2 separate regions of the Homo sapiens genome follow, and region 1 is linked to region 2. The links come from fine-mapping of genetic effects on gene expression. A gene starts in region 2. The other region holds a variant in brackets. All regions are shown on one strand. Distances are between the middles of the regions.

Evidence for each region. PIP is the estimated chance that this variant, and not a neighbour inherited with it, causes the effect. A credible set is the group of variants that fine-mapping cannot tell apart.
Region 1: its variant is the best candidate, but not a certain one, in a credible set for the expression of CDC42BPA in putamen (GTEx, PIP 0.85).

Annotation. Positions count from the first base shown.
Region 1 is chr1:227,024,419-227,029,806 of GRCh38, reverse strand. It overlaps CDC42BPA (CDC42 binding protein kinase alpha), which reads left to right. Exons shown (of 37, transcript NM_001394014.1): 30 at 557-1,150; 31 at 3,655-3,752. Among named protein-coding and RNA genes, the nearest start is that of COQ8A, 87 kb to the right of the region's middle. The variant T/C (reference allele first, on the strand shown) is at 2,942.
Region 2 is chr1:227,315,674-227,321,061 of GRCh38, reverse strand. It overlaps CDC42BPA (CDC42 binding protein kinase alpha), which reads left to right and starts at 2,570. Exons shown (of 37, transcript NM_001394014.1): 1 at 2,570-4,057. The coding sequence starts at 3,880. LOC124904531 (a long non-coding RNA gene) reads right to left here and starts at 2,470. Exons shown (of 2, transcript XR_007066911.1): 1 at 2,064-2,470; 2 at 1,001-1,948.

The sequences.
Region 1 (5,388 bases), 290 kb after region 2:
TTGATTTTCACATTGTTCTATTAGTACCAGAAGAGGCAACAGCTATTAAAATGTGTTTGTTTGGAGGTTTTTCTTCTAGGGAAAAACTAAATGCTGGGTGAAATAAAGAGAAACCAATATAACTTGGTATTCATAAATACAGTATTCTAAGTTTTATCTTTATGTCAACTTAGATCATGGGAAAACAATGCATTGTTAGCCATATAAAAACTTCTGAAAAATAAGTTCTCTGTTTTTAAAAATGGGAATCCTATGGTGACGTTCCCTAGAATTTAGTGCCAGTAGAAAAGTTTCCTTGAAGATTTGGCATACTTTTACACAAGAATCCTTTGGGGTTTGCCTTGGCTGCCAGAAATCTCAGGACTCAAATTTAATACGTACTATAGGTGAGTTAAATTATCTTATGATGGGTTGGATAATCTTTTTTTCCTGTGACTTCTGATGTCTTATTCTTCCGTATGTGCATCTGTAAGTTGACTTACATCCTTTTGAGTATAATTGGGATATGATTAATCAATAAAACTATATTTTGATTTATTATTCTTTCTGTGTTTAGAAATTATTAGAGTTGGTGACAATAAGAAGATTCATCAGATTGAACTCATTCCAAATGATCAGCTTGTTGCTGTGATCTCAGGACGAAATCGTCATGTACGACTTTTTCCTATGTCAGCATTGGATGGGCGAGAGACCGATTTTTACAAGCTGTCAGAAACTAAAGGGTGTCAAACCGTAACTTCTGGAAAGGTGCGCCATGGAGCTCTCACATGCCTGTGTGTGGCTATGAAAAGGCAGGTCCTCTGTTATGAACTATTTCAGAGCAAGACCCGTCACAGAAAATTTAAAGAAATTCAAGTCCCATATAATGTCCAGTGGATGGCAATCTTCAGTGAACAACTCTGTGTGGGATTCCAGTCAGGATTTCTAAGATACCCCTTGAATGGAGAAGGAAATCCATACAGTATGCTCCATTCAAATGACCATACACTATCATTTATTGCACATCAACCAATGGATGCTATCTGCGCAGTTGAGATCTCCAGTAAAGAATATCTGCTGTGTTTTAACAGCATTGGGATATACACTGACTGCCAGGGCCGAAGATCTAGACAACAGGAATTGATGTGGCCAGCAAATCCTTCCTCTTGTTGTAAGATTCTCTTTCTTACGGCTGTCTTATCTTTATATCTCTTCTTCCTTTTCCCTTCTACTTCGTCTCCCAAATGTTGTCATTGTTGATAACAGTTTTTTAAAAAAGTCATTCTTAATGCTTTTCCTCAGTATTGATTATGTTGTTGATGTAAAAACCATATGTAGTTAGGCCTGGGCAAACAGGGCCAGCATTAGCATGCACGTAATTTAAACAAAACATCTTTCTGTGGAATATTTCACTAAGATGGATTTTTTACCCCACATCATATTTTGAAATAACCCAGAATTGTTATCTCATGGTCCCCCAAAATATGGTGCTTGTAAGCATCAGTGTTTCACAGAACTTATTCTGGAGAAGTAGTTACTAAGTGAGTTATTTAATCAGGTATGTAAAGGTATAATGTAACATCTATAAGAGGTGTTTTTTCAGTTTTCCACTTTTATCTAGATGGGTAGATATTTATAATTGCTTATTTTACCCCTTCAAGAAATATTAAGACATAATAAATTATTGAATACTTTTTTTTTTTTTTGAGAGATGGAGTCTTGCTCTGTCACCCAGGATAGAGTACAGTGGTATCGTCACAGCCCACTGCAGCCTCCAACTCTTACACTGAAGCAGTCCTCCTACTTCAGCCTCCCGAGTAGCTGGGACAGCAGGTGCACACCACCACACCCAGCTTATGTTTTTATTTTTTGTTTTTGTAGAGATGGTCTCATTAGTTGTTCAGGCTGGTCTCAAATTCTTGTCCTCAAGCAATCCTCCCAACTTGGCTTCCCAAAGCACTGAGATTATAGGCTTGACTCACCACACCCAGACTCATTGAATACTTTTAATTATAGAATACTTTGGTTATTGAAAATAATCCAATTATTATTGAATATGTGCCATTGAATATGAGTTAACAGCAATGAGTAAAATAGATACAGTCTTAACCCCACAGAGCATGGGGTGCAGTGGAAAAGATTCGTGATAAAGCAAGTAGTTGCAGTAGAGTGTAAGTGCTATGATAGCAGAAGTAGAGAGTTCTGTAGAAGCACATAGAAGTATTTCATCCAAACTGTTTTGTTTTTAATGAAAAATACTTGAGCATGTTAAAATGCTGAAGGGAAAAAAAACCCTAGGGAACTACATGGAAAAGTTGTCTATATGGGAAATAGAGTAAGACCGCCAAGAAGGCCAGAGAGGACAAAATTCAGAAGACAGGTGCAAGAATTACTTGGGGGCAGGAGGAGTAAAACCTCTTCATTTGTAACAAGGTAGGAGGAGGAGTGATGGGTATGGGTCTAGTCAAGTTTAAAGGTTCAGTGCGAGAAAGTTTGGGAGGGCAACCCATGCTCATTACAGAAAAATCAGAAAGTCTGCGTGAACAGGACAAAAGAAAAATACCTCTAGTTCTACCCATCCAGACTTTTTTTTCCCCCACCCTCCATCCTGGGATGAACGACTTAACTATTTTTTGTTGTTATTGTTGTTGTTTTTTGTCTTTCCAGCTTTTCAACTGCAGATCTTGGGAATTAACTATTTTTAATATTTTGTTTCTTCTGAAAAATATGGTCTTAGGTGGGCACAGTGGCTTACACCTGTAATCCCAGCACTTCAGGAGGCTGAGGCAGGAGGATCGCTTGAGGCCAGAAGTTCGAGGCCAACTTGGGCAACATAGCGAGAACCTGTCTCTATAAAAAATTTTCTTTAATTAGCCAGGTGTAGTGGTTGCATGCCTGTTGTCCCAACTACCCAAGAGGCTGAGGTAGGAGGATCACTTGAGCTATGATCATGCCATTGCAC[T/C]CCAGCCTAGGCAATACAGTGAGACCTTATCTCTAAAAACACAAACCCACACACACTCTCATACTCATCAGTGGAATAAATGCTGTCTTGTAACTGAATCAGATAATAATTATGATTATTCTAATGTAGAGTCAGAGTTGGAATGTCTGACTTTTTTGTGTAGCTCTTTCAATAATTCCCTTTGTAACCTTAGTTTAAGTAAACCATTGAATCTTTCTTTGCTTGTGTCACCATTTGTTGATATTCATTCTTTCAACAAGTGTATATTGAGCATCTACCCTATTCATGTAACTGTGCTACAGTGCTTTATTATACATTCTTAACAGGGACTAGAACACTTACCTGAAGATTTCTCTGCTTTCTAAGTTTGATTCACTGTCAATAACTTAACTACTTTTAGGAATCAAATAGTTCAAATATAATGAAATTCCTTTATAGAACTCATGTTGGGCAAAGAAATAGTATACCCCTGGTGTTTACAGAATCCGTCTATATTATAACGGCTATATAATCTGAATCATGGTATACCAGTTCCTCATTTACGATATATGTTCTGTTTGCTTCAAAAATGTTTTGATTTGGCTACTATATGATAGCCCCATAGGATTTGGGTGGGATTCCACTCTACAGTTATTTAGTGTAGACCTTTCAAAATATTTGGGGTTTAATAGTTAAAAGTAATCCGCAAGCTGCCCCCCCTTCCCTTCTCCCAGGTTACAATGCACCATATCTCTCGGTGTACAGTGAAAATGCAGTTGATATCTTTGATGTGAACTCCATGGAATGGATTCAGACTCTTCCTCTCAAAAAGGTAATTTAACATTAAAATGTGGGCTAAGCCAACTGAGTATAAGTGAAAACACTAAATTACTACATAGTAATTTTTTTTTTATTAATTCAACATTTTCTGGAATGTGTAATTGGCAGTTTGGGACTTAGCTAAGAGTGAGAAAATAGAAACAGAAATAAAGTTGGTTAATTTCCTTATGCCTCACTAAAACCATACTAATTTTACTATATTTGGTTTATGCAAAGTATGATTGTTATTATTATGAACAACTAGAATATATCCTACAACTTAAAATGTCAGTGTTATCTTCTACTTTTGGATTAAGGAGCTCTGAGAGAGTACATGATTATTATGAATTATAACTGTCATTCACCCAGTGTTTAATCCTGTGAGGACAGATTTAAAAGGCTAGAAAAGTAATTAAACTTAGAACCAAAACTGTTTAAGTGTCCATAATTGAAAAATAAATATTTCATATATTCCTAATAAAACATAATATTTTTCTTAATATATAATCCTGTTTCCATAACAAAGAGAATTTTTACAATTATAGAACTGCTAGTTTGCAAAAATGAAGAGCAATAGTTTCATATAGATAGATGTGATATATATATAGCATGTATGATTAGTTGGGGGACAGGGTTTAGAGAATATGTGAAAGTAGCTTAGATCATATTTCAAAATTAGCACCCATTTAAAATCATAATAGCAGTTTAAAAAGCTCTTGTAAATACTGCCAGATTATCTAAAGCAACTAAAATATACTCTAGTTTGTAAATTTGGATTGGTCATTATTACTTTTCTGTGGATTTTTTTGTTTTGTTTTTGTTTTTGAGACAGGGTCTCGCTCTGTCATCCAACCTGGAGTGCAGTGACATGATATCAGCTCACTGCAGCCTCCATCTCCTGGGTTCAAGCAATTCTCCCACCTCTGCCTCCAGAGTAGCTGGGACTACAGGTGTACACCACCATGCCCTGCTAATTTTTGTGTTTTTAGTAGAGACAGGGTTTCACCATGTTGGCCAGGCTGGCCTCGAACTTCTTACCTCAAGTGATCTGCCCGCCTCGGCCTCCCACGGTGCTGGAATTACAGGCATGATCCACTGCACTCAGCCCTATTTGATTTTTATCATGTAATTTTTGCAATGTATGTGAAAGAATAGATATATGGCCTTTGTGAAAGATAATAATAAACTGATCACTCATGAACCTACCTCCTAACCTGAGAATCAGAACATCACTCATATAACTGCAAACTGCGTCATGTTGTGCTTATCATTCCTTTGCTTTTCTTAAAATACAGAATTTTTGCATATTTAAGTATCCCTAAATAATATATCTTTCAGTTTTGCTTGGTTTTGAGCTTTATGAAAATGTTATAATATATAGTCATTTTCTATCTTGCTTTCTTTACTCATCCACTGAGTCTCATTCGTTCATGTTGTTATATATACCATATAGTTTATTGCTTTCAGTACTATAAAATATTCTGTTGGGTGAACTTAGCACTACTGTCTGTTCCCTGACTGGGGGACATTGAATTATTTACTAGCTTTTTGCAATTGTGATGTTGCTGCATCTGTTTTTTGGAATAGTTTTCAGGAGTTTGAGTCATATACCTAGGAGCAGAATTGATGGGACATAGGGAGTTCAGTCA
Region 2 (5,388 bases):
GGTGGATTAATTCTCCTGCTTTTAGCCCTGAATTGGAGGATTAGTTGAAGAGAGCTTGTATTGGGGACTAGGCTTAATGATTTCTGTCCTGCCTTCTTCTTTCCACCTTCCTACCTTCTTGTCTTCTCCTGTCCTCTTTCTTTTCTGAATGGTCAGATTAATTCCCAGCATCTTCATAAAACATTCTCTGATTATTTCAAACAAATTGGGTGTTTGCAGTGGTATACATCTAATCTCCAGGCCCCCAAGCAGAATTTCACAAAGAAGACCTCCTCCAGACTATTTTTCCCCAAAGAATACCCTGCGAGGCAGCCTGTGGCACTCTTGTTTTGCAGGAACACTTCAAGCACTGTACAGCTGCTGGGCTGTGCCTTTCTTTGGCTTAAGACCGGTTTCATTAACAAGCATGTTCACACTTCAACCGGAACATTTAAAATAACACCCGCACAATGTGTTTAGTGTCTAGTTAATTATTAAGTCTCTGAGCTTGAATTATTCAAGCAAAATTGATTGGGTTCAAGCTCCTTCCTTCTCTTTGTGTGTGTGTTTTTTAAAATAAAAATAAATTCTGCTCTCTACTTTCTAAATAATGTGGAAAGGGTTATTTAGCAACCATCAATACCCTGGACTGTGGGTGGTACCCAAGCGCTAATAGAATAGGTAAAGAACTGACAGCTTGACTCTTTTGTTAAAAAAAAAAAAAGTATCTACATCTCATATACTTCCATTGTCAATTAGCATTTAGTGAGACCTAACATGTTTTAGGTTCTCCTTTAAACTTCTTTCTAGTTATTTGTAAGTTGGAAAAGCAGGTATCTTGGAGCCATTTCTTTAGTTAACCGTACTTGAAAAAGCAGAAGAAATTGCTTCCTTCTTTGCTACCGCATCTTATGGTCAAATGAAACTGTTAAAATTGGCTTCACCATTAAAATCCATGTTGTTGAAGAATGTTTGTTGAACTGAAAAAATGTCCATAATATATTGCTAATTGCAAGCAAGAGGCTATAAAACTCTTTTATTATGTATCATTTTTGTTAAAGTGCATAGGAAAAAGACTTGAATAATAAACACCAAAATATTGCTTATTATCTGTGTTAGGATTAAACTTTTCTACTACTTTTAGAATTAGACAACACACACCCATATAAAGATGTCATGGCTGGAAATGACTGACCTTTTGTTTGAATCTAAGTATCATTCATGTCAAGACCGCATTGAAAATAATGCTGTTCTTAAGCCAGGCAAGTGTAGACGTTGTAGATTTCATAAAAGATTCACACTATTTCATGAATCACAACTTGAATCGACTTCTGTTAGCCTTCATTTTACGTCTAGGCCCTCATTTCTAATTCTTCCTCAGCTTCCATATTATCAAGATGTAAGATGCAATTGTGGACATGAACATAGAAACACAACCGCCTCACAGGTGTGGGGAAGGAATATAAAATAATTGTATTTTAGAGAACGACCATAAAGGAGATGGCAATTTTGAGAGAAAGTAACAGAACTGCAATGACCTAGTTTTGTGGTGTTAATTTAAATGTGGCATCTTCCATGAGAATTTTATAAAGGGAGCTCTCCTAAAACCGAGATTCACAAAAACCTGGAAGGGCCCTACAGGGATCAGGTGCCCTAGCTATTCAGCGATTTGCCTTTGCTTCCCTAATTCCTGCATTGTGCCACTGGGTTACAAGTGTGTGTGCGCATGCACACAGGGGTGTAGGTTTGATGACAGTGGTGAACTGCCTTGACTGCCTTCACAGGCTGAATCCCCCGCAGGCAGTAACCATGGCTAGGGAAAAACAGGCAGCCGCGAGGACAGTTCCGGAGGAGACAACACCAGGCTCCCGTAGGGAAACTTTTGGGAATGGAGATGGGGGATTCCATCCTTTGCGTGCAGACCCAAGACTTCGATGGTAGCTCGGACAAGTCTGTCATTGTTTTTGTCCTGGGAAATGACACACGAAGTGCTGTAATTAGACACCTAAGAAACGATTACTCTGGAGTGTGCGCGAACCGAATCTGGGGGGCCGGTGGGGAGCAGGTAAGGGGCTGAAAGGCACCGTCTCCTCCAGCTCTGTCGGAAGCCTAAAGCCCTCTGCTTCTGGGCGCCCTTAACAAACGCGCCAGACAGGTGATGTCTCCGAGGACGAGCAGGAGCCCCCCTTCGCGATCTGCACCAGAAGCCTCGGGGAGCCGGGGCCACGGCGCGGCGGTGGCGCAGTTCCCAGCCTGCGCCCAGTCCCGCCGCAGCTCCCGGCGCGGCCCGGTCATCCCGCCTCCATATGCTCCGCCACCGCCGCCCGGGCCTCCCTCAGCCCTCCCGCAGCTCCGCATTCCACGCTGCGGCAGCCGCAGCCTCGCCGCCTAGGCAGTCCACACCCCTCCCCTCGGGCTGGCGCAGCCACTCGGGCCCCGAGCCCGCGCCCCCTTGGGGGCCTCCGCTGGGCGCGCCGGCCGGACCCCGCCCGGCTTGGCCGCCGGCTGGGGCTGAGGCTCGGGCAGGGCGGGGGCGGGGAGTGGAGGGCGTGTGCGCGCGCGTGTGCCGGGGCCGGGGGGCCAGGCCGCCATATTGGATCCAGACTCGTCCGCAAGCCTCCGCCTCTGTGCGGCGGGACTGGAGGAGCCTCGCTGAGCCCAGGGCGCGAGCGCGAGAGGAGAGGGAAGGCGGGGGAGGGCTGGAAGGGAGAGGAAGGGAGTGGTTGGGAGCCGGGCTGCCGCAGCCTCTAGTCTCCTCAGCCGCGGAAGCGACCCCTCCTCCTGCGCCGGGCCGCCTCCCTCCTCGCTGTGGAAAGATGCCCTTAGCCCAGGGGTGTGAAGAAGGGGGAGAAGTAGCTGCCAGAGCCGCCCGCGCCGCCGCCGCAGCTGCTGCTGCTTGTGTCCTTTGAATTCAGAGAAGCACCCCCCCGCCTGGGGCGTCGGGAGCCTCCGGCGCGGCGGCCCGGTGCGGGTGTCGGGGAGACCGGGCTCTCTGCCCGGCGCGGCGCGGCGCGGCTCGGCCCACGAGCGACCACCGACATGGAGTGGGCTCGGGCGGCCAAGTAGCCGCTTCTCCGGAGCCCGGTGCCAGTGCCGCCCGCAGCCCGCCTTCCACCCCCGGCCGCGCCGCCGGTCAGGCCCTAGGGTGAAGCCGGGAGGAAAATGAAGAGTTTTCACCGGAATCCGTTGAAAATAGGACTGACTGCAAAGCCTTAAAGAAAGAAGGACCTCGGGAGGAGAAACGAAAAGCCGCCTCCGGGCAAGACTTGGCGTGCTCCGAGCCGAGGGGCTGCTTCAGGGACCTCGCCCCCTCCCTTTCCCGCTGGAGAAATTGCCGCTGATGCATTATCCAAGTGGTGGTTGGGAGGATTTGCAGCAACATTTTTGGTTTTCCCTCCCCCTTCTATGCATTCTGTTTTTTTCCTCCCTTTTCTGTTTTTCTTCTTCCCGGGAAGTGAATTGCTGATGCAAATCGGACTTTATTCATTAATGATGCAACCGGATTCGTTTCAGGATTACGTTGCACGAGTTGAATTTTGAATGAAGGAGAAGAGTTTTTTTTTTTTTTTTTAAAGAAGTGTTGACTCTCTAGTTCGTTGTACTTTTAATTATTATTTTATTTAAATATACGACTTAATTGTATTCTTTTAAAAATGCATTAAGTATATATTTTATGGTAATTTACCCTCAAAATATATGTATATGGGTGAAATTGAAGACGCTTCAGTTAAGTGAGGTTACTGGTGTGTTGGATGTTTAATTCAGCACCAGCATTGCATGACAGTTGTTTGAATAACAAGTGGTTTATTTTTAAAACCATACCTTTTAAAATTTAGGTTCAGATAATAGTAAAAGTCATCATAATAATTTAAAGGAAAACCAGCAGAAATCGAAGCAAACATGTCTGGAGAAGTGCGTTTGAGGCAGTTGGAGCAGTTTATTTTGGACGGGCCCGCTCAGACCAATGGGCAGTGCTTCAGTGTGGAGACATTACTGGATATACTCATCTGCCTTTATGATGAATGCAATAATTCTCCATTGAGAAGAGAGAAGAACATTCTCGAATACCTAGAATGGGGTAAGTTTGTAATTTTTAAAGAAACTGTTAATCTTTAGCTGGTCATTATGATTTAATTGGTATAGAGAGTTATGAGTAAACTCTACTCCGTTCAAAGAAAAAATACAATAAAAAAACAGACACTAGTTATTCAAGATTTTCCGCTAGTTTTTGGTAAATATTTTCCCAGGAGTAGAATTGTGCTGCTCAATTGTTGCCTTGATTTAAGGCCTAGCTAATGTGGAACTTGGCTATGAAGAACTTATGTTTTTAGGTCAACAGTAAGAGATTTTAAATCAATTCTGTGATGGGCAAAAGTGGATTATTGGTTACAGTTGCCTAATACATGGCACTATAATAGTCCTTCATTTGAAAGGTATTTATTGGTGGAAACATTCAGACTATGGAAATTATTCTCAAAATAGGAGGAGATATTAAAATATCTGTGTTTGCCTTAGGTCAACAGAAAGCTGAAGGTGGTGATCAGTGGGTTTTATTTCATCTCTACATAGTACAAGGAAAGGAAACTGCTAAACATGGACTTTCCAAAAATTATGTTTGTAAGATTAAATGACATAGTTTAAAAATCTTGTGATAGTAGTTAGAGAATGTTTGGGGGCAGCTTCCACTTGAGAGTTAGATTTTACTCGAAAGTTAATTTAAATCTAAACTGGTTAGGTTTTTGGCTTCATTCTTCTAAATATAGATGTGATTTAGAAGACCTACTGTAGTGGAATAGATCAATGATGTGAGCAAACGCTCCATGACCTTCAAGCTTGAAGGCTTGGCTCAAGTTCTTCAGCGTCTGCTGTTACATACAGGGCACATTCTAAGGTCCAGAAGTTCACTGTTGCAATAAGCACGCATCGTCACCCAGATCTGTCTGTAGTAGTGGTACGTTGGCTTTTGAAGGATTTTGGCCAAATATGATTTTGTACCTTTGGAATACTAATCATTTTAGTTTGTTCTTATGCTAAGTTCTTATGCTAAAATATCTGTTCCCAAGTAAAACTTTATTTTCCTGAAGTAAAAGTCAAGTGCTGATTGTGTCTTTTTTTTTTTTTTTTTTTGGATTTGAAATTTATTCAAAGTTAGTTTCTCAGGTAAACCACTGATACAAGAATGTCTACACGTAATAACTTTAATTATTCAATTTGCCAGTATAAGAAGGTTTCTAGCAATGTGATGTCATAAGGTTTAAAAAAATATGTAAATGTGAATAGAATAACTTTTCAAAACAGACTGCCAGACTCATCCTGGGAATGTAAGAAATCTAAACCATCTTTCAAGTAACTTCTCACTTAAGAGTGAGACAATTTTGGCTTTGGTACTGGTTTTGTGAGTATACGTCT